Regions from separate parts of the Homo sapiens genome. Here region 2 is linked to region 1. Evidence: fine-mapped QTL for protein levels in blood plasma. A gene starts in region 1. The other region holds a variant in brackets. All regions are shown on one strand. Distances are between the middles of the regions.

What was found. PIP is the chance, under the fine-mapping model, that this variant and not a neighbour inherited with it causes the effect. The UK Biobank Pharma Proteomics Project read protein levels with antibody pairs (Olink). The fine-mapping took linkage between variants from a reference panel, not from the people measured, so its PIPs are less certain.
Region 2: its variant is fine-mapped to the plasma level of the GPC5 protein (UK Biobank, PIP above 0.99).

Annotation. Positions count from the first base shown.
Region 1 is chr13:91,397,008-91,399,926 of GRCh38, reverse strand. GPC5 (glypican 5) reads right to left here and starts at 1,306. Exons shown (of 8, transcript NM_004466.6): 1 at 718-1,306. The coding sequence starts at 880. LOC124903189 (a long non-coding RNA gene) reads right to left here. Exons shown (of 2, transcript XR_007063831.1): 1 at 2,766-2,919; 2 at 2,339-2,581. RefSeq lists silencers at 1,222-1,491, 1,198-1,492.
Region 2 is chr13:91,763,105-91,766,023 of GRCh38, reverse strand. The region is part of intron 5 of GPC5 (glypican 5); the gene reads right to left. Among named protein-coding and RNA genes, the nearest start is that of GPC5, 370 kb to the right of the region's middle. The variant A/G (reference allele first, on the strand shown) is at 1,220.

The sequences.
Region 1 (2,919 bases):
CCTTTGGAACGCTGGTACATCTCATCCATGTCAAGTGACTCCCCAGTACGTTCGGTTTGATCGCCTGTTGCCCTAACACTTTTCAGGCTAAAAACTACCTTGGTGCTGGGAGACACACTGGGTGGTTGGGTTTCCTCCAAGCAGGGCTTGATACGAGGGCACAGAAGGGCAGCTAAGGGTCACGTCTCTGGGTGCACAGGGTCCAAGTCCTAATTACAGAGGAGACCGGCTGCCCTTGTCTGTGCCCCATTCTCCAGCAAAGGGGTATATCGCAGGTTTGTGATTTTTAGTACCAAACTTGGGGCGATCAATTCAATTCCCTCCACCTTATGAGAAAGCAGTAAACCGAAATCCCCGGTGGGGCACTGGGGAAATTCCTACTCGGAAGAGAAACGGAGTTAGACTGCGTGTCCCCCACGCCCTGATGTCTGCTTTCCTGGTTCCTTCCAACTCATCCTCCAAGACGAAGGGAGCCGGGCGGGAAGCAGATGCCCAGAACGGGGATTCGTCGCAGGCTTGGTTAGGGGTCCCCAGAGCTGCGCTGCGCTGCACTCAGGCTACCCGCACCAAGCATCCCCGGAAGCCTCCCCGGGATTCACCCTGCGCGGCTGCAGGGCCCGAAAGGTCATCTTCCCACGAGTGCCACCAAGGGAGCCTGGGGGAGCGAAGGCCGGGCTCGGACGCCGCCAGTCCAGAGACCCCCTCATTGCCCCTTACCTGCCCGCGGCGAATCCGGCAGCCCCCTGACAGCTCCCAGCAGCCGCCACTGGAAAAGTTTCCGAACTTCTTCGCAGGTCTGCACGCCCTCGCTGCGGGCGGACCCAACCAGGGCCAGAAGGAGGAGGCAGCGAAAGCCCACGGGCCAGGTCTGTGCGTCCATCCTCGCCGTCCTGGTCCCCTTTACCCGCCAGTGGACCCCACTCGCCCTGCGCGCCCTGGCTGAGCTGCAGACGTGGAAGACACAGCGGCCGAGGCTCTCGAGCGGTGCGAGCCGGCTGCGGGGTGTACGGACCGCCCGCGGGCACCGGCTTCACCTGGGAGCAGTTAGCTCTTCCCGGAGGAGGCCCTAAGCTGAGACACCAGAGTTTTCCAGCTGAGCACCCTCTGGTCTTCTTCCCTAGCCGAGAAGAGTGGGCGGCTGGGCGGGGCGAAGAAAACTAGTGGAGCCGCAGGGAGCCCGCAAGCATCCGCTCTGGCCACCACTGCTGCAACTGCTGCCGCTGCCGCCACTGCCGCCACTGCCGCCACTGCCGCCGCCGCCGCCGCCTCCGCCGCCCGGCTCGGCTCGCAGCAGCTAACCTGGGATGTGCCCGCTCGCTGCGCTCCGCGGAAGCCCCGCCCCGCACTCCCCGCCCCGCGGACAGGCCACGCCCCTGCCACGCCCCCGGCGCGCTGTCCCGCTCCGCACCCACTAAGATGCTGTCATACGCGGCCCAGTGCTGAAGACTCGGAGCGACATCGATGCAAATAAATAGAAGGAAACCCGGACCTCGCTCTCCCAGTCCGTTCTGGGGAAGAATCATCTGATAAAAACAGAGAATGTATAAATAGGGTCAGAGAAGACAAGAGATGAGAAACACCAACTGGAACTAAGAAATATCTCATCTATGTAATCAAGGTCCTCAGTACATAGGAATTTGTATTCTAATTGCATTAAATAGGATCTGGACATAATACAAAAGGCAAAAACTATTTACGGTTAAAGATCTCAATTGAGAGACTTCATAACACTTAGGTTGTTAAAGAGTGCACATGAGAAGTTATTTTTTAAAATGGCTTTGTTTTACTGCTTAGGAACATTTTTCTATAACATGATTTTCTGAAAGGAGGTATAAGAATTACAATCAAACTTTATCACATTCTTATCACAATGAAATCTAGTTTTAAGTCTCTTATCACCATTTAGCATCATATTTTACTTCAGCACTTTGTATTTGTGGGGCTCCTCTGAGCTTTACCACTTCTGGAATTTCTTTAAAATATTTTTCAGAGAGCAATTAAGTTAAGAGTGCTCAGGGGAGTTCCTTACAAGGAATATAGAAAAATAAATACTTTAAGCAATTTTAAAATGGCAAAGGAATTTTGTCAATTTACAGTTTATGAGAGGAATGCATTACGCACCATAAACCAAAGGGCAGGTGCATTTTTTAAATGTGGTTGACTCAACAACTAAGCCTGTAAGAGTGTCTCAATCTACAGCCACTTGAAGAGAGTACTCCTTCTGTAAAATAAACTAGTTAAAAGCATCAGGCAGAGGGGACAATGAATGCTTTAACCACTTTAAGGAATTTCATCTCAAATTTGAACCCTTACCAAGAGATAGTAGTGAAAAACTTTATGTCTTAGTGAAGATTTTTAATGAACATTTAATATCAAAGGCAGCACTTTCAGCAGTATATCACTTGCTTTAAAACCATTCCAGGGCAATGGCTGAAACACTGCTTCAGAGTGAAATCATGCTACTTGGTGTTTGGCATCAGTTTTCTGAATATGAGATTTTGTTTCAAAGGGCAGTGCTCTTCATGAATCTCTTCTGCTCTAACCACCAAGTATGGAAAGATTGTCTGGAAGCCACCTATATCTATGAAAAGAAACAAGAAAAACCATGAGAATGTATATAGTGCTTATGGGCCAGATAATATTCTAAGTATTTTATGGAAATGAATTCACTCATGTAATCTTTATAACAACCTTATAAAGTAGTTACTACTATTATCATTGTTTTACAGATGAGGAAACAGGAACACAGAGGTGAAGTGACTTACTGAATGCCTAAGGTAAGTGACAAAGCCAGAAATCAAACTGAGGCTTCCAAATCCAGACCGCATGCTCTTCTCCAGAGGCTCTCCTTGACTATTCTGTGGTACAGAAAAACCCATCAGGTTTCACCAAAGGCCTTTGGGCAGCAACACCAAGGGC
Region 2 (2,919 bases), 370 kb before region 1:
TTTTATTGTGTTACTATATTTTTGTATTTATGTATTACAGAATTTTAAGTGAATACAAATATACAGAAAATATAGTATAACACTCCGTTCCCATCAAACAGCTTCAATGATTACTCACTCAGAAAACTTCACTTCAAATATAATATGACCCTCTTTCTCCCACTCACTGAATTATTTTAAAGCATTCTCAGTCATTATCTCATCTCATCCATATTTTAAAGAATTTATTTTAATTGAATGAAAACTCATATCACATATTACCTCTTTCATTAAATACTGTTGAATCCTCTCAATCAAAAAAGAATTTTCCCCTATTTGAAAGTCTGTGGGATTGTACACTTCTTTTATTTCAAAACCTGTTTTGCTGTGAATGTGTTTTGTGAACATGTTTTCTACCAGTTTGAGATTCCAAGTCCCTGAAAGATTGGGAAAATATCTCATATAACTTTGCGTTCCATTCAAGGTCTATTGCAGTATCTTGAATTTGGAAACTAGTTTTCTGTCTTCTCTGCACCACTTCCAAGTACATGGAAAAGGGTGCTAAAATAGTACTCTTTCTGTTTCCATTTCAGCCAAGAACAAGGGACAATAGATGGCATACACCCCTCACTTTCAGTGAGGTGCTAGACATGAAAAGCAGATGACTGAAACCTTGTTTTCAGTCCCACAGTTTGACATCCACCTTAATTGAATAAAAGGATTGAAGTTGAAGAGAACAAAGCAGGGAACTTGTTTGAAGAAAGCTGATTGAACTGCTACGGCATTCCCTCATTCATTGGTCCTAGGTGAGAGAAGTGTTGAAGGATCCTTGGAGCTGGAAGGACTAAAAGGGCTGGTAGTTGGCCTATGCCTACGCAAATGGAAGGCAGCCCATTCTTGTAGCAGAAGTTGGCTGTCTAGTGGCAGAGTAAAGAGAGGCAGCTGCATTAGGTGTAGGCTGTACTTCCACCAAAAGTAGAAAAGAGAGGGAAGGTTTCTATGGGCTAGAATAGATGATATGGGAGAAAAGGAACCCACCAAAAGATCTCAGCAGAAAGAGGCCAAAACATTACCATCACATGGAGAAATAGAGGGGAGAGACATTGTCTTAAGCACACAAAAGCACTAGGGCATCAGCTGTTAATACCTGCCAGGCTAGAAAACATCAATGAGAGATCATAAAATTACCAGTCACAAAGAATGATTTCTTCTCTCACTTCTTCTTTCTCACTTTTGATCC[A/G]TCATCTCCCCAGCTCGAAACCTGCCAACTACAAGCACAGGGGAGTCAGAAACATTGTTTGAAGGACGAGGAGAGTGCAAGGTTGGCACACGAACCTGAAAAGGTTCACATACACACCCTACTAGGGACTCTTAGACTGAAGCAGAACCTAACTGGACGAGGGGAAAAACGAAGAGTAAGAGAATTTCACACGTTTGATTATTAGGTTGGACTGGACATTTTCATTACTGAATTTACACGGTTTATGGAACTAACCCATAATGAAAGAGCCTTCAGGCACTAATAGTGAGCAAAAAAATTCTGACAGCTGGCCATGATTTTATTCTGGTGACAAAGTAAAAATGGCATTCCTAGAGGATTTAATGTTTCTACTCAGACCTTTCTGAGTCTGGCTTTCTGAATGTAATGATTACACACGCTTAACAAGAGACAACTGATTACCAAGCCAATACGTCATTAAAGAGAGATACGGAAGACCTGTCTCAGCTCAGAAGATGATATACCACGCAATTATTGCCGCATTCATAGAGCATTTTTAGAAAAGACCAAAATGTGTATATTGACCTGAGAATGATTAATATTTCCCTAAGCTTTAACCGTAGTTAGGAATGTCAGGACTTGGAGCCAAGCTGATAAAATGTGCATGTCCTTGCAAACATCTCCTGTATTACAGTTGGCCCTCTGGATCCACCAGTTCCAGATCAAGGATTCAACTGTGTTCAAGGATTCGACCAACCACGAATCAAAAATATTTGAAGAAAAAAATATATAAAAATAAAAAACAACACCAAGTTTTAAAAAACAGTATAACAACTATTTACACAGCATTTACATTGTATTAGGTACTATATTTAGTCTAGAGATGATTTAAAGTAAACAGGAGGATGTGCATCGGTTATACGCAAATACTACCCCATTTTATAGCTGGGACTTGAGCATCCTTGAGTTCTGGTACCTGAGAGAGGTCCTGGACACAATTCCCCATGGATACCAAGGGGTGACTATATTTGTTATAGACCCAAACCATGAGATAACTACTTAGGGACTATCAATGAAATAAAAATTACCTACCAAGAAAGTGTAATAGAGGAAGGCAGGGAGAGTACAACTGTGGCATAGGGATATTATACAGCCAAGAATCCTGCAAATTTATTTTCTGTTGATTTCAAACCATCAGCCATACCTGGATTTGTCTAATTGAACCTAGAATGTGTAATCTGCAATGTGATGAATTCTGTAGTCCCTTATATCTGAAACTGCAATTTTTATTTTTGTCACAAATGAGCACAAATGTTTCAGTTCTTCCCTTAATGAAGACTGCAAACTCAGACTTTTGACTTTGGGCAGGTCTTTGCACGTGGATCTACTCCTCATTCCAGTGCCTCATCTTTTTGATAGGAACAATCCCACCCAACATGTCTCTAACCCAAAACATTTCAGATTCATGGGGTTCTTTAGATTCCCATTTAACAAAAATGTCCATGAAAGTGCGTACCATGAGATGTACATGGTCTTAAAGTTGTCCGGGGGGGAGAAAAAATCAGCATCCAGAGTCAGCATAGATTGTAACTTGTATGATTCATCTCCCTTCATCTAATCTTCCTTTCAGGCATCAACTTCACTTTGGACCCACGTATTACCCATCAGAGCGTTATCACCAAGTCCAAAGTCCTAAATCTCTTAGTTCTCACTAATGCTTA